3 separate regions of the Homo sapiens genome follow, and all the other regions are linked to region 1. Evidence: fine-mapped expression QTL. A gene starts in region 1. Each other region holds a variant in brackets. All regions are shown on one strand. Distances are from middle to middle. Region 1 holds the start of AMN1-AS1 (AMN1 antisense RNA 1). Region 2 overlaps ETFBKMT (electron transfer flavoprotein subunit beta lysine methyltransferase). Region 3 holds the start of LOC124902913 (a long non-coding RNA gene).

Evidence for each region. PIP is the estimated chance that this variant, and not a neighbour inherited with it, causes the effect.
Region 2: its variant is fine-mapped to the expression of AMN1-AS1 in whole blood (INTERVAL, PIP above 0.99).
Region 3: its variant is fine-mapped to the expression of AMN1-AS1 in whole blood (TOPMed, PIP above 0.99).

What each region holds. Positions count from the first base shown.
Region 1 is chr12:31,725,701-31,733,882 of GRCh38, reverse strand. AMN1-AS1 (AMN1 antisense RNA 1) reads right to left here and starts at 4,618. Exons shown (of 1, transcript NR_198987.1): 1 at 2,679-4,618. It overlaps AMN1 (antagonist of mitotic exit network 1 homolog), which reads left to right and starts at 4,862. Exons shown (of 7, transcript NM_001113402.2): 1 at 4,862-4,912. The coding sequence starts at 4,875. LOC105369722 (a long non-coding RNA gene) reads right to left here. Exons shown (of 3, transcript XR_931497.3): 3 at 4,993-5,226. RefSeq lists enhancers at 1-663, 4,354-4,553, 3,949-4,581, 4,594-4,943, a cis regulatory region at 697-924 and a silencer at 4,994-5,073.
Region 2 is chr12:31,664,554-31,672,735 of GRCh38, reverse strand. ETFBKMT (electron transfer flavoprotein subunit beta lysine methyltransferase) reads right to left here. Exons shown (of 4, transcript NM_001135863.2): 3 at 6,519-6,649; 4 at 1-5,089. The coding sequence ends at 4,746. It overlaps AMN1 (antagonist of mitotic exit network 1 homolog), which reads left to right. Exons shown (of 7, transcript NM_001113402.2): 7 at 359-1,594. The coding sequence ends at 432. Among named protein-coding and RNA genes, the nearest start is that of ETFBKMT, 9.0 kb to the right of the region's middle. The variant G/T (reference allele first, on the strand shown) is at 4,206.
Region 3 is chr12:31,644,140-31,652,321 of GRCh38, reverse strand. LOC124902913 (a long non-coding RNA gene) reads left to right here and starts at 264. Exons shown (of 2, transcript XR_007063269.1): 1 at 264-586. It also overlaps a transcript of ETFBKMT not described here. The variant T/G (reference allele first, on the strand shown) is at 4,462.

The sequences.
Region 1 (8,182 bases):
CAACTCCCTATGATTTCATTTCCGTCCTGACCAATCAGCACTCCCGGGTCACTGGCTTCCCCCAACCCACCAATTTATCCTTAAAGATTCTGCTCCTGGCTGGGCGTGGTGACTCGCACCTGTAATCCCAGCACTTTTGGAGGTTGAGGTGGGTGGATCACCCGAGGTCAGGAGTTCGAGACCAGCCTGACCAACATAGTGAAACCCCGTCTCTATTAAAAATACAAAATTAGCCGGGCGTGGTGGCACATGCCTGTAATCTCAGCTACTTGGTAGGCTGAGGCAGGAGAATCACTTGAACCCAGGAGGCAGAGGTTGCAGTGAGCCAAGACAGCGCCACTGCACTCCAGCCTGGGTGACAGAGCAAGACTCTGAAAAAAAAACACAAACAAAAAAAAACTCTGCTCCCCAAATGCTTGGGGAGACTGATTTGAGTAATAATAAAACTGTCTCCCGCACAGCTGGCTCTGTGTGAATTACTCTTTCTCTATTGTAATTCCCCCGTCTTGATGAATCAGTTCTTTCTAGGCAGGGGGCAAGGTGAACCCCTTAGGCGGTTACAAATTCAAAGGCCACAGTTCCTTTCAGGTGGCTTCACCTGTGGTCACTCTGGCAAGGTTTTGGTTTTGCCCTCCAGGACCAGAAGAGGTAAGGTCTTCCTGCTATTGTAGCGCTATGGTATTGAACTACCTTTACCCTTGCTCTGCCCTAACTCTGTCCACACCTTTGGGAACAGCTCCTTTATTAACATCTCCTTGCTTCTCCTGTTTGAACTTGCCCAACTCTTAACCTGCTTGGATCCTGAGTCATCCATTGTATGACTCAGACTCCTGAGAATTTGAAAGTCACAGATCTCTAACCTAGAAACAAAGCAAGTGTTTCTAGCCAATGGGAAATTTCAACAATGTATAACAATCCATGAGCATGGGCACTGTTATTTCCAATTTGGAGTGTGATATTATAAAACAAGCTATGAAAAGAAACTAAATAAAAAGACGTGTTATTTTCTCAAAGGACACTTGGAGAGTTAAGAGCAATCCTATTTGAAAATAACCTACACATGGTAGGATAATAAAGTAGGGGCTCACTTGGCTTAGCTCCGTTCTGTTCTTGTGAAAGCACACATTCATATAAATAAGATATACTTGTTTTATATATATTTATTGTATTTTAAAACATGGGTCCACATACAGCTCATATATTACATTATGAATTAACAGCATGATTTAAGAAAAGTAATTTTGTTAATTATTTTTATAAAACAAACCCAGAGGCCGGGTACGGTGGCTCACGCCTGTAATCCCAGCACTTTGGGAGGTCGAGGTAGGTGGATCACAAGGTCAGGAGTTCGACACCAGCCTAGCCAATATGGTGAAACCTCGTCTCTACTAAAAATACAAAAAAAAAAAAATTAGCCTGGCATGGTGGCACATGCCTGTAATCCCAGCTACTTGGGAGGCTGAGGCGGGAGAATTGCTTGAATCCGAGAGGCAGAGGTTGCAGTGAGCCGAGATTGCGCCACTGCACTCCAGCCTGGAGTAAAGTAAAACAAACCCACAGCAACAATCTATGATAACGTTTACTTTGTATGGTAGCTATGGTAGGAAGTGGAGGAGATTCTGAGCTAGAGGAAACTATATTAAAGTGGGCACAGCAAACAGAGAGGAGAAAAGGAAAATATCTTGCCCTTAGCCTAACCCTGCCTACAAATCACTTACCATACACTAGAAAAGACTTTCATTCCCAATAACTTTGCATTCAAAGATAAACCATGAATAGCGGGAACCTCCTAAAAGCCTTGACTAACGGGAAATCCTAAAAGCTTTGCCTCCAGAGATAAGCCACAAAAACAAGAACATCCTGTTTTCCTTACCACAAAACAGGAACATCTTGTTCTTATCCAATTGGAATGAACTGCCATATCTGAGCTATAAATATCTGCCATTTCATCTGAGCTATAAATTCCTCTATTCTATTTAGCGAGCCACTCTCTGAAAGTCTGATTTTCTTGAACTGCAAGTAAAAATGTCTCTCTGTGCTCATATTTGTCTTTGATTTTTATTTTGACATAGGGTTCCTGAACTGATTTTTGGGGGGGGGAATCCTGAAGTTGGACGCACCCAGGGCTGGCTTCATGGGTGGGCAAAATGTGCAGTCACACGGGCCCCACTCTGGGTTTAGTGCTCTGCTATCACCATCTTAAAATTCGTAATTTCTTTGTTTTTTTTGAGGTAGAGTCTCACTCTTGTTGCCCAGGCTGGAGTACAGTGGTGTGATCTCGGCTCAGTGCAACCTCCGCCTCCTGGGTTCAAGCAATTCTCCTGCCTCAGCCTCCTGAGTAGCTGGGATTACAGGCACCTGCCACCACGCCCAGCTAATTTTTTTGTACTTTTAGTAGAGTTTCTCCATATTGCCCAGGCTGGTCTCGAACTCCTAACCTCAGCTGATCCGCCCACCTTGGCCTCCCAAAGTGCTGGGATTACAGGCGTGAGGCATGTGCATTTTAGCTTTCTAGATCAGGTGAGGGCACATGGACAAATGGCTCAAGGGTCAAATCCAGTCCACTGTCTGTTTTTGTATAGCTTGCAACTTAAGGATGGCTTTTACATTTTTCAGTGGCTGAAAAAGATCAAAAGATGAGTATTTCATGACAGTTGAAAATTACATAAAATTCAAACTTCAGTGTTTAGGATAAGGTTTTATTGGAACAGAGACCCACCCATTCATACTGTCTATGGCTAATTTTAAGATACAAGTTGAATAGCTGTGACCAAGCCAGCATGACCCACAAAACCTAAAATATTTCTTGTTTGGCTCTGGGAAGCTAAAAGACAACAAAGAAAGAATTCTCCAAAGATACTGAGTTTCTTTGGGAGTGAACAAAAAGAATTATAATCCAAGATGTACAGCTATGGCAAGCCACGGGTCTGGAGAAGGGAAGAATAGGGGGAAGATTTTACTGGTAAAGGAGGGAAGTTCACATAAACTCTTGGAAACTAAGTTGATTGGTTCCCAAGGCTCAAATCAAGAATTGGAGTCCGTTCATTGGTGGAGGTCCTGCTGCTGGGCCAAACGTCCTTTCGACAGTATCTTATCTGAACTGCTGCAGTTTTAAAGAATATTTAGCAATAAATCTTGTCATAGAAATGTGCGCATATTTGCAAAACAAGCAAGTTGTGCAAAACATTAAATGCATGAAAGATGTGAAGAAATTGTGGGTTTTTTGGTTTATTTTTTAAAGTCCTTGAGGCAGTTCGTTCTTTCTTTTTTTTTTTTTTTGAGACGGAGTCTTGCTCTGTCGCCCAGGCTGGAGTGCAGTGGCACGATCTCGGCTCACTATAACCTCCTCCGAGTTCAAGCGATTCTCCTGCCTCAGCCTCCTCAGTAGCTGGGATTACAGGCGCCCGCCACCACACCCAGTTTTTTTTTTTTTTTTTTGTATTTTTAGTAGAGACGGGAATTTCACCACGTTGGCCAGGCTGGTCTCAAACTCCTGACCTCGTGATCCGCCCGCCTCGGCCTCCCAAAGTACTAGGATTACAGGTGTGAGCCACCGCGTCTGGCCTTGAGACAGTTCTTATCTCAGACATACAAGCATGAGTTTCCTTCCTTTCTGGTCTCTAGGCTCCAATTTGTCTGGGTCTGACAATAGTTACTTCTCCTGGAATCTGCAACTTTCAGAGCACTTTATGGAAAAAGTCGGCCAACCCCTGCCCTACACTCACTCTTGATCACTCTCCAGTGTAGCCATCCCAAACTATTTGCAGACCACCCTTTTCTCTCTGATCTGTATCCCACCCCCATGGGTGCTTCCATAGAACTAACCCCATCTAAGCATTTAACAGTTATTCTAATTGCCCTTTTACTTGTCTGACCCAAGTGTTCGCCACTCAATCCTCAGCACCCAGCACGATCCCTAGCCCTCGTTCAGCGCTTAATAAATCCATGTTGATTCAATGTGTAGCATCCTGAACAGGCAACAGCAGTGGGTTCCAACTTTCAAGGAGCTTAAAAAAGGAACTCAGCATACAAACAACAGACTAATCTACAAGGAAGAATGAGGGGGGTGGAGGGAGCACTAAAAAGCAGCAAGTACTCTGCAGCAGAACCAAAGATAAAATTCCACCTAAAGGTGCCCTTTCTTCAGGATCCTTCCTAATTTGAATACAGGTTCCCTTCTCCTCCATGACGAAATTCTTAGTGAGGTTACTTGTTGGTACGCAGTGTCCTCATCTGTAAAATAAGGCTAAATAATTACGATTTCACCGGATTATAATGAATATGGTTAAGTATTGAACTAAGGCCTAGAAAGCACGTAGCTCAGTGCACGCTTCCTAGAAAGTGCTCAGTAAACTCGGATCCTCTAACACGCTCCGTTTGATGTTAATGGAGTCCGTATCCGAGCGGGTCTCCAGTGTGCATCGCCAAGGGTATGGCCCAGCATCCAACGCATCCTTTTAGTAAGAGTAGCGACTTCTCAGCGCTCCCTTCGCCCCAGGAGAGTTCTCGGCTCGCGGCGTCGCGGCGGGGCTGCGCGCTGGGCTGAACTCCCAAGAAACCTCCTGCAGCTGAACCGGAGCAGACGCCCGCCAGGTGAAAGAACTACAACTCCCGTCACGTTGCATCCGAGTTTAGGGCCTCTTTATAGTTTATCACACCCAGCCTCTTCCGCGCAGCCCTCAGTGGCTCCGCCCCAAAGGGGGCTCTCTTCTTTCCTTGTGGAGTCCGAAGCGTGGCCACGCCCCGGTCACCGGAAAAATCCGTGTGACGTCACAAAAACCTACGCGTCGCGCGGTGGGCGGGAGTTGGCGGACGGTCCCTGGCTGGGTTCTGGAGGCCCTGGGACCGCGGAAGAGGCTTCAGACGCTGCAGCGATGCCTCGCCCACGGCGGGTCAGTCAGCTCCTGGATCTGTGAGTCTACCCTGTCCCGCCTCCCTTCGCGCCGCCCCAGCACCTCCTCCAAACGGCCAGGCCCTGCGCTGCTCTTCCTCCCCGCCCCTTTCCCACCCCCCCCGCCGACCTCTGAAGAGGCCCCGCGTGTGTTTCTGTCCCTGGGTTCCTGATCTGTCGTTTCCTGGCTGAGGACAGTTGTGCAAAGTGGGTCTCTTGGCGGGCTTGCCCCTCCAACACTCCGCTGCGCGATGAGCGTCCATTCCTCCGTCAGCCTTGACAGCTCGGCGCCCCGGCTGTTACTGGCAGTGGCCTCTCTCTTAGCAGCTAAAAGCCTTGGTAGAAAAAAACACAACGCTAGATGAGGTTCTCAAAAGCTTCTAGCAGAATTCCACCCCTGTAACTGGAATAAACATTGACAGACCCTGGGATAAAGGTAACAAAGTGGTTAAGACCACGGATCCCTGGCTGAGATTGCTGGGTTCAGCCCCCGGCTCTGCCATTCACCAGCCACGTGACCATGGACCGGTAACGTAACCTCTCCCTGTGCCTAGGTTCTTTATCTATAAAATTTTTGTGATAATAGCACCCATCACATGGAGTTGTCCTGAGGGATAAATTTAAAACATGTAAAACCCTTATAAGGATGCCCAGCAAATAATAAACACCACTAAGTGTTATTGTTATTATTATTTCCTACCAGAAATTGTACGGAAATGGAAGTTACAAGGGCAATTGCGTCTCTCCAGGAGCTTTCAGTCCGTTAATATTGCCATGTAAAAAATAGACATCTTAAGGATAAGGAGAACAATCTCCTTAATCTACTGAAGGCTTTCTGAAACAATGGCATCTGATATTTTACATTAAACTTGGGAGGCCGAGGTGGGAGAACTGCTTGAGCTCAGGAGTTCGAGACCAGCCTGGGCAACGTGGCGAAACCCCGCCTCTACTAAAGATACAAAAATTATCTGGGCACGGTGGTTCACGCCTGTAATCCCAGCACTTTGGGAGGCCGAGGCACTTGAGATCAGGAGAGTTGGAGACCAGCCTAGCCAGCACGGCAAAACCGCGGCATGTACTAAAAATACAAAAATTAGCCAGGAGTAGTAGTGGCGCCGGTAGTCCCAGCTACTCTGGAGGCTGAGGCAGGAGAATCGCCTCAACCCAGGAGGCAGAGGTTGCAGTGAGCTGAGATCGCGCCACTGCACGCCTAGGCTGCTAGGCGACAGAGCGAGACTGTCTCAAAAAAATAAAATAAATAACTATAATATATGTAGAATAATATCACAAGCGGGAGAGTAACAAACTTTTGAAATTTCTAATAAGGAAAAGAATAGGAGAAAGCTTTGTCAAGGGGGTTATTTTTGAACATTGGTAGTATCTGACGGTTGCAAATGGGAGGAAATGTATCGTAGAGAGTGAAATAAAAAGAGTAAAGGTTTGACAGGCAGGAAAGGTAGAAATATGAGAGAAGACCAGAAAGTAGCGCTCCAATGTGAATGGAAGATACAATATGAATAGCACAGTAGTGAGACATAAAGCCAGGTCATTGGGAATAGAATCTTAGGGACCAGGATGAAGTAAGAGCATTTCCTCTTTCAGTCATGGGGAGCTATCAAAGGTTTTAGAACTGTACTGTGAGCAGAGAGAGATTTGAATTAGGCAGAAGTTGGAAATAGGGAGACACTTAGAAGACTGTTACAAAATCTTAAGAGGTGAAGAGCCCAAACCAGGAGACACATGAAGATGTTCTTTGCAGAATTATTTCTGGTGGCATGGAGCTGGAATGGGAGAGTTACCATGGAATATTATGCAGCTGTTAGAAAAGCAAAGGGTAGGCCAGGCATGGTGGCTCACACCTGTAATCCCAACATTTTGGGACCCTGAGGAGGGTGGATTGCTTGAGGCCAGGAGTTGGAGACCAGTCTAGGCAACATGGCAAAACCATGTCTCTACCAAAAATAAAAAGTTAGCCAATCTCATAACCTGGTCTCAAAATAAATAAATAAATAGATAAATAAATGAAAGAAAAGCAAAGAGTAGATTCATTTGGATAGAATTTTAAAACACAGTGCTTAGTGAAAAAAAGAGGAAACAGACTAACAATGTTAAGAAAAATTCTTCAGAACTTGGGGCTAAGACAGGGATGACTACATGATCTTCATTGTCATGCTAGAGTGTGGTCCCTAGGTAAAGGTCCATATTTGCCCTTAGAACCTAATTTTGTACCCTTCTGGGACAAGGTACAGTCTGAGACTGGCAGTTGGTCAGCAAGCTATTTCTGGTTTGTAACAAAGTAAGAAGCTTGAGCCAGACTAGTAATTAAGTGTGTCACTAAGCACATTATTTAGTCCAGCTGATGAGGCTTTCTCCATGAAGGAAACAGGGCTTGGTTTATGTTCTTGCATAAACTCCTTATCTCCTCACTGACCAGCACTTTAACACTGCTTTAGAGAATCCTTTGGATCTGGGACATGAATAGTTTTGAATAGAGGGACCGAGGAAAGAGAAGAATTAGAAATTACTCTTTTAGTTGGGGGCCGTGGCTCACGCCTGTAACCCCAGCACTTTGGAAGGCTGAGGCAGGTGGATCACCTGAGGTGGGGAGTTCGAGACTAGTCTGACCAACATGGAGAAACCCTGTCTCTACTAAAAATACAAAATTAGCCGGCCGTGGTGGTGCATGCCTGTAATCCCAGCTCCTTGGGAGGCTGAGGTGGGAGAATCGCTTGAACCTGGGAGGCAGAGGTTGCGGTGAGCCGAGCTTGCACCATTGCACTCCAGTTTGGGCAACAAGAGCGAAACTCCGTCCCCCCAAAAAAAAAAAAAAGAAATTACTCTTTTAGTTTTAGCTTCGTTGACAGGTAGAATGGTGATTAGACTATTATGGAGGAAGAAGTGTCTTACGGGGAAAATGAATCAGAATATCCAGTAGAAATATCAAGCAGGCAGTTAGAATATAATTTTGAATCTGAAAGAAAGATCAAGGATTAGGCTGGGTGCAGTGGCTCATGCCTGTAATCCCAACACTTTGGGAGGCCGAGGCAGGTGAATCACTTGAGGTCAGGAGTTCGAGACCAGCCTAGCCAACATGGTGAAACCCTGTCTCTACCAAAAATACAAAAAAAATTAACTGGGCATGGTGGTGCACATGTGTATTCCCAGCTACTTGGGAGGCTGAGACAGGAGAATTGCTTGAACCCAGGAGGCGGAGCTTGGAGTGAGCCAAGATGGTGCTACTGCACTCCAGCCTGGGCAACAGAGTGAGACTCCATCTCTAAATAAATAAAT
Region 2 (8,182 bases), 61 kb after region 1:
AATCATCTATTTCCGGCTAAGATCCTGAAAAAAGTTATTAACCATTAACACAGGTTAATGGTGAAATTAGACCATTACTCTGGTTGGTGGAATTATGATGAAATTACAGAGAAAACAACAAATGCCTGTTTTTTTTTTTTAAACAAGTAATACCATGATAGGTGCACTACACCTAATAATAGTGAGGGCTACCATTAATTAATTATTAGTGAGTTAGTTGTATATTGTGCTTTATAGATCACCTCCTTTAATCCTTTAAATAACTGTATAATAATTAACATCACCTCCAGTTAGACATGAGGAAACATTAAACATTTTTTATTGTCAATTAATATATTGTCATTGTTTTCTTTTATAGATCATTCCCGAGAAGTGTTGGAGCAATTAGTAGGCCCAAACAAACTAAAGCAAGTGACATGGACTGTTTATTGATGCTTTTTTGAAGATGATCAATGCTAGGAAAGCTTATCAAAACTACTTTCCCAGGAAACCATCTATAGAGATTTGCATTCTACTTAATGTTAACACTATTTTTAATTATTTTATTGTCTTAAGTTATAACTCTCAGAGAATTAGCTAAGTCTTGGTATATACATGGTTTGTGCTTTACTCTTAAACATCTTTAAAGTGCTATTATTCTATATCTGTTGGATGAGTCATTATTTTTGAAATGATAATCCTAGCATGAACTCTGATCTATGGTGTTGGATTCTGTTTCTTAAATAACTTTAAAATTAACTGTTTTCCCTTGAGATTTCCTTCTCCTATGTAGGTATTTGAGCTATTGTTCTAAGTTTACCTGTAAGTATAAACCTTGGGAGAATCTAAGTAAACATATTTCTAAAAGCATAGTTACCTTCCTATTTTCTGGCTCTTACCTTCTTGGAGTATTTAAATGCCCATTTGCCAAAAGCAGACCTGAACATCAAGCCTGTTAATTCTTCAAAGAATTTAGGTATTTGTTTCACCGAAATGAAGTGACTTATTAGCCATTCAGCGTATTAGTATTACAGAGGCTCTTGCCCAGCCACATCCATTCATTGATTTTTATGGCTACTCTTCCCAGTTACATTTTATGCATCTGTAAGCTTTCCTTCCTTAGCAAAATTGCATTCAAAAATGTGTAAAAATGAGTAAATACAGAATATCACTACAGAGACTTGTATCCTCAGGTTTATTGATTTCACATTGTGAAATAAACAGCAAAGGTCTTAGTTTTCAAGTGAAAACTTTTTGGTAATCACAAAATTACCTGACACATACCACGCTTAAACCAACCCCCAAATTTAGCATATTCATTTTGCCATGAGCCAGTCTTGAGATTTTCTTAAAAGATTTCTTATTTTGCCTCTGATGTAGTGAAAAACGGGGTAAGTATGCTAACTTTCTTGTATATGTTGGGGGGTACTTATTCAACTCCATTTCTTGTCCTTACAAGATTTATAAATGTGGTATGTTTATAGTGTGGATATATATGTTGCCACTGCAAAGGTGGTGCATATGTATATATGTGCAAAATGGGTAAGGCCTGTTCTAACTATGAAATTTTTCTAAAGACAAATTCAATAAAATTTAATACTGAATATTTAACCAAGTCAATCACATTTTCCCCTTTTTGCAGAAACTAGTTTCGACATCTAAATTGTGAGCTTCTTTGGGTCTATGAAGGATTTATCTTCCTAAAACAGTTTGCAGTTTGATATTTCTCCTTTTTTATGTTGCTAGCTGTATTAACTATTTCTCACCACTCTGTTTAAAATATCTGTACCCCATCCAGTACCCAGTATTCCCTATTACCCTTACTTCTTTTTCTCCTTACTACCTATCACCATCTGATGCCTGTTTTCATTTGTTCATTATGTCTCCCTACTCTAGAATACAAATTTCATAAGGACAAAGTATTTATCTTTTTTTTTCATTGCTGTATCCCCATATCCCCAGTGCCTAGAACAGTGCCTGGTATATAATAAGCACTCAAATATTCATTGAATAAGTAAATATGGAAAGAAATAAAGGAGGAAAGAAAGAAATACCCAGTAATACCCAGCCTGGCCAATGTAGCAAGACTCCATGTCTACAAAAAATACAAAATAAAAAAACTAGCCAGGCATCATGGTGGTGCATGCCTACAGTCCTAGCTACTAAGGAGGCTGAAGTGGGAGGATTACCTGAGCCTAGAAAGTCGAGGCTGCAGTGAGCACGGTCGCATTGCTGAACTCCAGCCTGGATGAGAGAGCAAGACCTGTCTAAAAACAAACAAAACAAAACACCCAACAACAACAACAAAAATTTCCAGTCTCTAGTCTGATTTATATTTTCTAATATAAAGAGATTGGAAGTCATCATTCCCATCCTCACAATAAGAAAAAAGCTCAATAAACTGAAAAGTCAACAACACTTAGATCCATTAGAGAATTAAGGTTAAAGAGAGAATGCCTCACAAATTAGAAACGCAAATACAAAGAACCATAGCTTACAGGGAGCAGAAGCCTGTTGCTGGAGCCAGTACCAATAGGAACATTTATGCTGTAATTCCTGAGTTGCTGGAGGCTCCATGTGGATGGACTTAAGAATCAAAAGCTCCAGCCTGGCACAGTGGCTCACACGTGTAATCCCAGCACTTGGGGAGGCTGAGGCAGGTGGATCACCTGAGGTCAGGAGTTCGAGACCAGCCTGGCCAACATGGCGAAGCCCTGTCTTTACTAAAAATACAAAAATTAGCTGGGCATGGTGGTGCATGCCTGTAATCCCAGCTGGGTTTGGTGGTGTATACCTGTAATCCCAGCTACTCAGGAGGCTGAGGCAGGAGAATCACTTTAACCCAGGAGGTGGAGGTTGCAGTGAGCCAAGATCACGCCATTGCACTCCAGCCTGGGCAATAAGAGTGAAACTCTGCCTCAAAAAAAAAAAAAAAAGAATCAAAAGCTCTAGGAATCTGTCCATAAACGTTATCTAACCAGGTGTGGCAACCCTGCAGTCACTCTGAACCTATTCTGCTTTTGGGAGCTGCCCAATTCACAGATTGTTCTTTGCTCAATTAAACTTTGTTAAATTAAAACAAACAAACTCCAGGGGGCCCACTCCTAGGGGAGACACCACACTTTCATAGTTTTACCTCCAGGATACCTACCAGGTTCTCAGGGTGAGGATCAGAGAAAAATCCCCTCTTCTGGTATGAGGATAGGGAAAGTAACCATTTTGAAATATGCCCAAGTGTTCAGTTCTCCTTAACAAAAGCCAGTTCTCAAGGGAAACTATTTTACCAGAGCCTCGTTGACCTGGGGGAAAGGAAGCACCCAACTCCAGCTGCCTCTAGCCTTCCTGTCTCACCAAAGTGACAAAAGAAAAGCTGAAAGCACTTGTGAAGGTCACAGCAGGGGCACAGGCTGACTTAACTGACTGAGACTTAATCACAGGACTATAGAACATACCTTCTCCCATACCTTATCACATCAGTTAGGCTACTGTATAATAACAGGGAATTACAGGTGAAAAAAACTGCAAGCTTCAGACTCTATATAAGAAGGAATCTCTAGGGAAACTCAAAGATAACAGAGGAGACAATAGCCAGGACACTAGAGGAAAATTTAGCCTGTAATATCTACTCTACAGCAAACAGTAGCCCTACCCAGATTTTAAAACCTCATGCTACCTTAGTTTACTTGTTTATTTATGCAATACATCATGTCTAGCTATCAACAAAAAATTACAAGGCATGCTAAAAGACAAAAAAACAGTCTGAAAAGAAAACAAGCATCAGAACCAGACTCAGTTATGGCAGACATTTTAGAATTACCAGATCATAAATTTAAAATAACTGATTAACATGCAAAGGGCTCTAATGCGAAAAGCATACAACACGCAAGAATGATGGGTGACGTAAGCAGAGATAGAAGCTATAAGAAAAAATCAAAAGGAAGTGATAGAAGTAAAAAACATCGTCAGGCTGGCGTGGTGGCTCACACCTGTAATCCTAGCACTTTGGGAGGCCAAGGCGGGTGGATCACCTGAGGTCAGGAGTTTGAGACCGGCCTGGCCAACATGGCAAAACCCCGTCTCTACTAAAAATACAAAAATTAGCCAGGCATGGTGGTGCACACCTAAAATCCCAGCTACTCTGGAGGCTGAGACAGGACAATCGCTTGATTGGGGGAGGTGGAGGCTACAGTGAGCCGAGACATGAGTCACTGCACTCCAGCCTGGAC[G/T]ACAGAGCTGAGACTCCATCTCAAAAAAAAAAAAAAGCCCAGAGTTCAAGGCTGCAGTGCCCAATGATTAAGCCTCTGAATAGCCACTGCATTCCAGCCTGGGAGCAAAGTGAGACTGTCTCTAAAAAAAGAAAAAATATATATATAGTCTTCTTCTGTTTTGTTTTGTTTGTTTAATTCAAAGTTACATCACAGTTGTCCTCGACTACAGAAACAGATCCAGCTACAATGTTTAATTCTTCTCCATTACTTAAATTAAATGCTGCCACCATTGAGTATGGCATTGTATAATCATATTCCTTCAGCGGTTAAAATAGAAAAAAAAATGCAGATAGAGATGTGTATAATTGGCATGCATAGAAATACAGAACCAGTTACATGACAAAAGTAAACAAAACTCTAAACCTTCATATTTTAAAAACAAGATTTTCCATTTAACAAGAATTACATTCATTAAACTGGAGAGTATCTCCTATAGAGAAAACTTTTAGAGTCAGATCCAAACATTACTATATTCATACTTGGAAGCACTTTGACAACTCAAGGCTGAAAACCCCACACTGTGCTTGTTGTCAGTCCACTGTTTTCCTGCCTAGTAGACTCCAAAAGTGAATATTCTACCACTTTGTGCAGGTGATGCTGAATGCTGTGTCCACTGAACTGGGGCCGCCCAGGGTCACCAATCAGTACTCGAGTTCTATAGGTCCAGAAGCACTTCTTCAGCCACTGATGAAGACTATCTGCAAGGTCTTCATCATAAAACATATCGCCAAGAACAACAAGGTCCCACTTATCTTGTTCCAAATTCAAAATGTTTTGGATTAAAATAGGAAAAGGATTCAGTCTGTTCAATTCACAATTTAGTGTAATAGCCATTCCTGCAACTTAAAAAAAAAAAAAGCACAAAATGAATTGGTATATGCTAGGCTGTTATAATTCCATGTTGATTAAATAATTTAGAAGATCTGCTAACAATATATTTTTCTTCCTTTTTGATGAAAGTTGTTTTTTAAAGTAGAGAAGTATAAAGGTTATCCCAATATAAGCTATACCACAATTTCCAAATACATGACTGGATATCCTGAAAACAAACAATTCAAAACACCTAGAAATGCTGGGACTTTTAGGAATATTTGCTGATTTCATTAACCAAAAGATTTTGTTTTTTTACTGTGGACAGGGAAACGAGACTTGGGCTTGATTGAGCATGGCAATAAATTAGAACTGAGACCCCTTGGCTGGGCGCAGTGGCTCACGCCTATAATCCCAGTACTTTGGGAGGCCGAGGCGGGTGGATCACCTGAGGTCAGGAGTTCAAGACCAGCCTGGCCAACATGGTCAAACCCTGTCTCTAATAAAAATACAAAAATTAGCTGGGCATGGTGGTGCATGCCTGTAATCCCAGCTACTCGGGAGGCTGAGGCAGGAGAATCACTTGAACCCACGAGGTGGAGGTTGCAGTGAGCCAAGACCGTGCCACTGCACTCCAGCCTGGGCAATAGAGTGAGACTCTGTATCAAAAAAAAAAAAAGAAAAAAAAAGAACTGAGACTCCTTTATAAAATAAAGGTTTTCAGCCAGGCGCGGTGGCTCATGCCTGTAATCCTAGCACTTTGGGAGGCCAAGACGGGCAGATCACGAGGTCAGGAGATTGAGACCATCCTGAATAACACGGTGAAACCCCATCTCTACTAAAAATGCAAAAAAAAAAAAATTAGCCAGGCATGGTGGCAGGCACCTATAGTCCCAGCTACTCAGGAGGCTGAGGCAGGAGAATGGTGTGAACCCGGGAGGCGGAGCTTGCAGTGAGCTGAGATTGTGCTACTGCACTCCAGCCTGGGTGACAGAGGGAGACTCTGTCTCAAAATAAATAAATAAATAAAATAAAATAAAGGTTTTCAAGGACTATATTCTCAGTGAAAGGGTAGACCAGAAGAAAATCAGATCAAATAAAAACTTACCTGTCTCAGCCTGGGTTCTAATGGAATAAAAATAACCCTCAAAGACAGGTCAATACTCACTTGGGTTTGGGGTCAAATAAACACTATTTACATATTTCAGGAAATTCCTAGCCCATAAATTAACATAAGTGCTTACTCTGGATGTCTGGCAGACACAAATCCTCTTGGGAAAAATGCACCATCTACTCAGACCTCAGGGGATTCCTACAGATAATGTCCCAGTGCACAGAGATTCACAATGTCCAATCACAAAATACATATAACGATAAGCTACCACACTGAGCATGTGTACATATTTATCCCAGAGAAAAAAAAAAGATGAGCCTTAAATATTTTAAAATATGAATCCTTACTAGGGTCTATGTCATTGGCCAAGATCCTTGATGCCCCACTCATCTTAGCAGCAATAGCTGTAGCTCCACATCCACTCCCAAGATCTAATACAGATTTTCCTCTGACAACATCAGGATTATCCAAAAGATACCTAAATTAAAAAGGAGAAACATGTCTCAGAGAGATGAGGAAAAATAAATGTTGGGAACAGGCCCCCCAAAATCTGGCCATAAACTGGCCCCAAAACTGGCTATAAACAAAATCTCTGCAGCACTGTGACATGTTCATGATGGCCATAACACCCACGCTGGAAGGCTGTGGGTTTACCGGAATGAGGGCAAGGAACACCTGGCCTGCCCAGGGCAGAGAACTGCTTAAAGGCGTTCTTAAACCACAAACAATAGCATGGGCGATCTGTGCCTTAAGGACATGCTCCTGCTGCAGATAACTAACCCAACCCATCCCTTTATTTCAGCCCATCCCTTCATTTCCCATAAGGGATACTTTTAGTTAATCTAATATCTATAGAAACAATGCTAATGACTGGCTTGCTGTTAATAAACATGTGGGTAAATCTCTGTTCGGGGCTCTCAGGTCTGAAGGCTGTGAGACGCCTGATTTCCCACTTCACACCTCTACATTTCTGTGTGTGTATCTTTAATTCCTCTAGTGTCACTGGGTTAGGGTCTCCCCAGCCGAGCTGGTCTCAGCAAATAAGAGGTATGCAAAAAAAGAAAAAAGAAAAGAAAAGGAAAAGAAAGAAAAGAGATGTCTTTAGGTTGACTGGACAAAAGAAATAGTGAAAAGTAGCAGAACTTGGTCCAACCTTGGCAAGTTTGGTCTGACTAGAGTGACACAAAAAGTCCATCTCCAGAGCTGGGCAGAGGTGGCAGAAGAAAGGACCTAGTCATTTGGTCTTTCTCTTCAGCAGGTGTGAAGCACAGTACCACACAACTGACTGATTATGCTATTCAAGTCAATTTTTTTCAAAAAAAAGTTGTAGGCTGGGCACAGTGGCTCCTGCCTGTAATCCCAGCACTTTGGGAGGCTGAGCAGGTGGATCACCTGAGGTCAGGAGTTCGAGACCAGTCTGGCCAACATGGTGAAATCCCATCTCTACTAAAAATACAAAAATTAGCCAGGTGTGGTGGCGGGCACCTGCAATCCCAGCTACTCGGGAGGCTGAGGCAGGAGAATTGCTTGAACCCAGGAGGCAGAGGCTGCAGTGAGTAGAGATCAAGCCATTGCACTCCAGCCTGGGTGACAGAGTAAGACTCTGTCTCAAAAAAAAAAAAAAAGAAAGAAAGAAAAGAAATGTATAAATGGCCAGGTGTGGTGGCTCACGCCTGTAATCCCAGCACTTTAGGAGGCAAGGTGGGTGGATCACCTGAGGTCAGGAGTTCGAGACCAGCCTGGCCAACAGGGTGAAACCCCGTCTCTACTAAAAATACAAAATTAGCCAGGCGTGGTGGTACATGCCTGTAATCCCAGCTACTCGGGAGGCTGAGGCAGAGAATCGTTTGAACCCGGGAGGGGAAGGCTGCAGTCTGCCAAGATTGTGCCATTGCACTCCAGCCTGGGCAACAAGAGCAAAACTCCATCTCAAAAAAAAAAAAAAAAAGAAAGAAAAAGAAATGTATAAATACTGTGCCTCCTAAAAACCTCTTAGAAGAGCACAGGCCAC
Region 3 (8,182 bases), 82 kb after region 1:
CCAGGAAAATTTAGGACACTGACACACACAAGGAGTGTAGGAGCAGAGGTTTAATAGGCAGAAGAGAAGGGAAAGAGAAACAGCTTTCTCTATAGAGAAATGGATCTGCGAGTGGAAAGGACCAGCCGGCAGTGGATGCGCCGAAGTTTATAGTCAGGTCTGAGGAGACGGTGTCTGATTTACATAGGGCTCATAGATTGGTTTGATCAGGTATGACGTTTACACTGTGCGCAGGGGAAGCCTGGTTACCCCACCCTAATCTTATTATGGAAATAGACTTTCTAGTTGATCAACACCATCTTGTCTGCTCCTTACAGTACACGTGGCTGACAAAGGGAAGGGAAGATGGAGCCTCCAATTTGAACATGTGTACTCCGAAGTTCCTCCCTGCGTTCACTCGTGCAAGCTCCCAGCTTGCTTGTCTGTGTCTGCAGCTCGGCTTTACAGAATGCTCTTTGTTAGAAAATGATTTGGGGCTGCTTTTCATGAAAAAGAAAAGCCTTACTGAGGATTCCCATACTCCTACTATCTGCCTAAGTGATTTCTTCTAAACTCCTGTATCAGTGAAGTGCAAAGCTAGTGAAAGGTAAGTGTTCGTTTAGTAAGTTTATCTGTATAGGTCCATTGTAGCATCAATTCCCAGTCTCTGGAGATAAGGGTTATTTTCTCTTTCTACTAAAGGAAGGCATCGGCCGGGCGCGGTGGCCCATGTCTGTAATCTCAGCACTTTGGGAGGCGGAGGCGGCTAGATCACACCTGAGGTCAGGAGTTCCAGACCAGCCTGGCCAACGTGGTAAAACCCCGTCTCTACTAAAAATACAAAAATTAGCCATGCGTGGTGGCACGCACCTGTAATCCCTGCTATTCGGGAGGCTGAGGCTAGAGAATTGCTTGAACCCGGGTTGCCTCACTGCAACCCGGGAGGTGGAGGTTGCAGTGAGCCGAGATTGCGCCACTGCACTCCAGCCTGGACGACAGAGCAAGACTCCGTCTCAAAAAAGAAAAAAAAAAAAAGGGAAGGCATCTTTCTCAAAGGAATTTTTATGGCTTCCTAAAGGTAGGAATGGACACGTCAGTGGGGAGGGCAAAGCAACTCCATCCTGGATGCTAATCCATGCTGGTTTCTGATTAACGCCAGTTCCAGGAAGTCTTGTAAGACTTCCAGTTTATCTATTGTTCCTTGTGTAAGAGCACGTACTGACTGTAAATCCTGCCCTTAGGTCAAGTGGCCTTGATGTTATCATACTTAAGTTGTTCTCCACGTCCCTTCTGAATCACTCCTCTCCTGGGGTATATAAGCCCTGGGTTTGAGGGGTAATGGTGCGGGGATCCACCATCTTGTCTCACTGCTTCCTGAGATACAGACATGGCTTCTGTTCTAAGTCCCTAGTAAACGTTTCTTCCTAAGAAACTGGATGTGTCAGCCTCTTTCTTCCACCTCTCAGCTTCCTTGGCCGCAGGTTTGCATAGACCCTGTCCACTGTGAAACAGTGAGCTAGCTCTTCCTGCAATGACAGTCTCTCAAGTACCTTCAGCTTGAAATAATCAGTATGCCAAACTGGCATATTTGGGGGTGGCACGTCCTTAACTCTTTCATTGCAAAGGTCTTTGAACTAACCTCCTTATCCCTCCTTGCTTCCTTTGGTCTCTTCTCAACAGAAAAGCCAGAGTGATTCTTTAAAAAAAAAAAAAAAGGTCAGGTCATTTCAATCTTCCACTCAAAACCCTCTTAGTGTTACTGGAAAGGGATCACGATTCAGATCCCAAGAGAGGGTTCTTGGATCTCACGCAAGAAAGAAATCAGGGCAAGTCCATAAAGTGAAAGCAAGTTTAAGAAAGTAAAGAAATAAAAGAATGGCTACTCCAAAGACAGAGCAGCCCCAAGGGTTGCTTGTTGCCCATTTTTTATGGTTATTTCTTGATGATATATGCTAAACAACGGGTGGATTATTTATGCCTCCCCTTTGAGACTATATAGGGTAACTTCCTGATGTTGCCACAGCATTTGTAAACTGTCATGGCACTGGTGGGAGTGTAGCAGTGAGGACGACTGGAGATCACTCTCGTTGCCATCTTGGTTTTGGTGGGTTTTGGTTGGCTTCCTTACTGCAACCTGTTTGATCAGCAAAGTCTTTACAGCGACCTCCTATCTCATTCTGTGACTAAGAATACCTTAACTTACTGGAAATGTAGCCCAGCAGGTTTCAGCCTCAGGTTAACCAGCCCCTATTCGAGATGGAGTTGCTCTGGTACAAAGGCCTCTGACAGCAGGGCTGAGTGCAGTGGCTCATGCCTGTAATCCCAGCACTTTGGGAGGCAGGTGGATCACTTGAGGCCAGGAGTTCGAGACCAACCTGGCCAATATGGCAAAACCCCACCTCTACTAAAAATACATAAATTAGCTGGGTGTGGTGGTACGTGCCTGTAATCCCAGCTACTCAGGGGGCTGAGGCAGGAGAATTGCTTGAACTTGGGAGGTGGAGGTTGCAGTAAGCTGAGATCATGCCATTGTACTTCGCTACGGAGAGAGATTCTGTCTCAAAAAAAAAAAAGAAAAGGAAAAGAACACACACATTTATCCATTAAGTTCACCATCTTTCATGGGTGCTCCAAAACAATTACAATAGAAACATCAAAGATCTATGATCACAGATCACCAGAACAGATAATCATATTAGGTTGGTGCAAAAGTAATTGTTGTTTTGGCCATTACTTTTAATATTAATGAAAAAAATTTAAATACTGTGAGGATTACCAAAATGTGACACAGAAACACGAAGTAAGCACACTCTGTTTGAAAAAAAAATGGCACCAATAGACTAGCCCGACACAGGGGTACCACAAACGTTCAATTTGTAAAATTCACAATATCTGTGAGGCACAATAAAGCCAAGCACAGTAAAAGGAGGGATGCCTGTGAGTGGAATCATATGCAGTCCTTTGTGACTGACTCTTTCATTGAGCATAATGTTTTCTTCATTCATGTTGTAGAATGAATAAGTACAGTCAGACCTCTGTATCTGTAGGTTTCACATCCGTAGATTCAACCAACCGCAGATTGAAAAAATTGGGGAAAAAAATTTGTATCTGTACTGAACAGCATGTATAGACTTTTTTTTCTTGTCATTATTTCCTAAAAATATAACAACTATCTCCAGCCTGGGCAACACGGTGAAACCCCGTCTCTACTAAAATACAAAACATTAGCCCGGCATGGTGGTGGGCGCCTGTAATCCCAGCTACTTGGGAGGCTGAGGCAGAGGTTGGCATGAGCCAATTGCACGCCACTGCACTCCAGCCTAGGTGACAAAGCGAGACTCCGTCTCCAAAAAAAATACAACTATTGGTCGGGCGTGGTGGCTCATGCCTGTAATCCCAGCACTTTGGGAGGCTGAGGCAGGCGGATCACAAGGTCAGGAGTTCAGGACCAGCCTGACCAACATGGTGAAACCCCGTCACAGGGCTGGGCGCGGTGGCTCACGCCTGTAATCCCAGCACTTTGGGAGGCCAAGGTGGGCAGATCACAAGGTCAGGAGATCGAGACCATCCTGGCTAACATGGTGAAACCCTGTCTCTACTAAAAATACAAAAACTTAGCCAGGCGTGGTGGTGGGCCCCTGTAGCCCCAGCTACCTGGGAGGCTGAGGCAGGAGAATGGCTAGAACCCGGGAGGCAGAGCTTGCAGTGAGCCGAGATTGCGCCACTGAACTCCAGCCTGGGAGACAGCGAGACTCCGTCTCAAAAAAAAAAAAAAAAAAAAAAAAGAAACCCATCTCTACTAAAAATATAAAAATTAGCTGGGCATGGTGGTCCATGCCTATAATCCCGGCTACTCAGGAGGCTGAGGCAGGAGAATCGCTTGAACCTGGGAGGCGGAGGTTGCAGTCAACTGAGATGGTGCCATTGCACTCCAGCCTGGGCAAAAGAGCGAGACTCCATCTCAAAAAAAAAAAAAAAAAAACTATTTACATCATATTCAACATTATAATCTACAGATGATTTAAAGTAATTATGCAAATACTACATCATTTTATATAAGGAACTCAAGCATCCATGGATTTTGATATCCTCAGGGGTCCTGAAACGAATCCCCTGTGGATACTGAAGGACAATTGTACTACATTCCTTTTGTGGCTAAATAATATTCCATTATGTGAATATTCAGTACTATATTGTGTTTCTCCATTCATCTGTGATAAACATTAAGGTGGTTTCCACTTTCTGGCTATTATGAATAATGCCACTATAAACATTAATGTACACATTTATGTGGAGACATATGCTTTCAATTCACTTGGGTATATACCTAGGAATGGAAGTGCTGGGTGATATAGTAACTCTATGCTCAAATTATTTAGGAATTGCCAGACTGTCTTCCAAAGTGACTGCACAATTTTACATTCTCACCAGCAATTTATGAAGGTTCCAATTTCTCCACATTCTTATCAACACTTGTTTTTT[T/G]TTTGTTTGTTTGTTTTCTTTGGTTTTGTTTTGAGATGGAGTCTCCCTCTGTCACCAAGGCTGGAGTGCAGTGGCGTGATCTTGGCTCACTGCAACCTTCGCCTCCCGGGTTCACGTGATTCTCCTGTCCCAGCTTCCCGAGTAGCTGGGATTACAGGCACCTGCCACCACACCTGGCTAATTTTTGTATTTTTAGTAGAGACGGGGTTTTGCCATGTTGGCCAGGCTGATCTCGAACTCCTGACCTCAGGTGATCCACCCGCCTCAGTCCCACAAAGTGCTGGGATTACACGCGCCCAGCCCCTAAATTACCTCTTTAAGCTTCAAAATAAGCATAGGATGTAGGTATACTATTATGACCTCTGTTTTAGAGGTAAAGAAGTGAAGTCACAGGAAGGTTCAGTAACTTGCCTGAGGGCTCATAAATAGCTGGCAGTAGAGTTGGGATGACACACATGTCGTCTGGTTCCAGAGCTGCACTTAAACACAGGACGTAGACTCGGTAATGAGAAAGAGGAAGCTATTTCAAGCACGAGCCAAAGGCAGGGATTTACAAGTTCATTGCAGAAAATAAACAGCCCAGTCTGACTACGAAGAGCACTCACCGGAGCCAGGTTGCGGGAGATGAAATGAGGATAGGGTGAGGCAGGCTGGTGGAGGGCCTGGACTGTGAGGCTTAGAGGCTTGGATTCCATTAAGAATATTAATTGGGAGTCATGGTTGGTTGGTGTGTGGTCAAGGGAACAATAAAACAAAAACAGCAGCTCAGTGGCTGTCGACATGTTAATGGCCTTTGAAAATAAAGTATACAAACAATGAGTGGCAGGAAGGCGAAAAGAAAGCTTTCTCATCACCAAGCTCAAACTACTCTGCATTATAATTACACAATATAAAAAGATGGAGGATCATGCCTGTAATCTCAGCACAAGATCCTTAGGGAGGCTAAGGTGTGAGGACTGTTTGAAGCCAGGAGTTTGAAACCAGCCTGGGCAACATAGCGAGGCTTTGTGACAAAAAATACGAAAATTCCAGCCTGGGCAACATAATGAAACCTGGTCTCTACAAAAATTGTAAGAACTAGCTGAGCATGGTGGTGCACACCTGTCATCCCAGCTACTCAGGAGGCTGAGGCAGGAGGATCACCTGAGCCCAGGAGGTTGATGCTGCAGTAGCCATGTTCAAGCCACTGCACTTTAGCTTGAAGGACAGAGCAAGATGCTGTCTCTAAGAAACAAAACGAAACAAAAAAAGGCTGGGCGAAGTGGCTCACGCCTGTAATCCCAGCACTTTGGGAGGACAGGGTGGGCAGACCACGTGACATCAGGAGGTCAAGACCAGCCTGGCCAACATGGTGAAACCCCATCTCTACTAAAAATACAAAAATGAGCTGGGCGTGGTGTCATGTGCCTGTAATCCCAGCTACTTTGGAGGCAGAGATTTGAAAATTATTTGAACCCGGGAGGTGGAGGCTGCAGTGAGCCAAGATCATGCCACTGCACTCCAGCCTGGGCGACATTGCAAGACCCTCTCTAAAACACAACAAAACAAAACAAAACAAAACAAAAGATGGAAAGATTGTAAGTTATCCTTACCAAACTTCTCTGTCCCCTTCAGACACATTTAGATGTTCACATCTATAATTAGCCATTGTCAATGGTAATGAGATTCTAACAACCGCGTATCGCCTGTGTGCAATGTGCTGTGTACAAAGTTTTTAATCTCCACAGCAACCAGTTCAGAAGAGGAAGCTGATGCTTGGGCGGGTAGGGGGAATGTTATGTCTCTTTCCTTTTCTCTGGAAAAAAACAACAACTTTCATGTCATCCAGGCTCTCTCTCATCAAACATGAATCTTCTCTACAGCATCTGAAGGCCTCTAGGATTCTTCCTATTAAGTCACATCTGCCTCTGAGCAGGGGGACAAGGCAGCGTTGCACAAAGCCTGTCTCCACCTCTCTTAGCCCACAGTGACCCCAGGAGCTAAAAGAACATCAGAGAAAAACATCACTAATATCTCAAAGATACTGAGTGCTGCTTAGAGTTGCAGTGGCAAAAATTTTTATCCATGTAAAAATGTAGTCCAGGAAAGATTAGTTTGTCTTCCCCTGCTGGACTCCAGCCTATTTCTACCTAATTATTTTTTCATGTGCCAAAAGTACAGGTAGGGAATTCAGGGGGAAGTAAAATAGTGTTTATTGAGTGCAACTCTATGGCAGGCTCTTTATTCACATGATCTCATTTAATTCCCTTAACAATCTTGTAAGGTAAAAATTGTTATTCCCGGTGTTAATGCAATATATGGACACTGAGGCCAAACAGCTTAAGTAACTGGCTGAATGCACAAAGGCCTGGAAGTGGCAGAACTTGGACTCCCATCCAAGTTCTAAAGACTTCCTTCTATGTCCCTTGCACTCTCTGATCGCCCACATTCTCTTTCCCAGCAGTCTCTAGTTACCAAAATTGCTCTCCTTAAAAAAAAAAAAAAAAAAAAAAAAGGCCAGCCACAGTGGCTCACGCCTGTAGTCCAGCACTTCGGGATCCTAAGGCAAGAGGATCACTTGAGCCCAGGAGTTTGAGACCAGCCTGGGCCACATAGGGTGACCCTATCTCTATTAAAAAGAAAGAAAATTAGCCAGGTGTGGTGGCACACACTTGTGGTCCCAGCTACTCAAGAGGCTGAGGTGAAAGAATCACCTGATTACCTGAGGATCACTTGTGGTTCCAGCTACTTGGGAGGTCGAGGCTGCGGTGAGCCAAGATCATGTCACTGCACTCCAGCCTGGGCAACAGAAAGAGATCCTGTCTCAAAAAAAAAATTGCTCTCCCTCGACAGCCTGCTTAGACGGCACCTGGCTTCAACAAATAATGCCTTGAACATTAGTAGCAGTGCTGGGGAGGAAATGAGCTGAACCCAATACACTGGAGATGGTGGCCAGGGGGCCTCTCACAATTCCTGCTCCCACCTCATCCTGTAGCAAAAGAAGCACTTTCTTCCACTTCCTTATTGGTTCTGTGAGGGTTAATTCTATGTGTCAGCTTGACTGGGTTGCAATGTGTTCAGACAGTTAGTCAAACATTCCTCTGGGTGTTCCTCTGAGGGTATTTCTGAAAGAGATGAACATTTGAGCCCGGGCGTGGTGTCTCACGCCTGTAATCCGAACACTTTGGGAGGCTGAAGGAGGTGGATCACCTGGGGTCAGGAGTTTGAGAACAGCCTGGCCAACATGATGAAACCCCATCTCTACTAAAAATACAAAAAATTAACCGGGCGTGGTCGACAGTGTCCCCTGGCACCGCTGTATGTGCAGCAACAGATAGGTAAAATCTAAGGTTTTAGGACAGATGTGTGAAGGCTGCTGGTGAATGGATGGGACCAGGACAAAGAGGGTACCTCAAGTACAAGGTGCTCTTTGATCAAGCCAAGGACCATTACGGGTTGCAGGGTTGTTTCCCTCCCGGTCAGCCCTGACAGCTAAAGGGACATCATTTATGCCAGTGCTCCAAGCCACCCTTCAGCTCTTTTGGTTAAACCAACATGTATGGCTCTGGGCTGGGCATGGTGGTGCACGCCTATAATCTCAGCAGTTTGGGAAGCCGAGGCGGGAGGATTGCTTGAGCCCAGGAGTTTGAGGCTAGCCTGGGCAACATAGCGAAACCCCAACTCTACAAAAAAATACAAAAATTAGCCGGGTGTGGTGGAGTGCACCTGTAATCCCACCTAC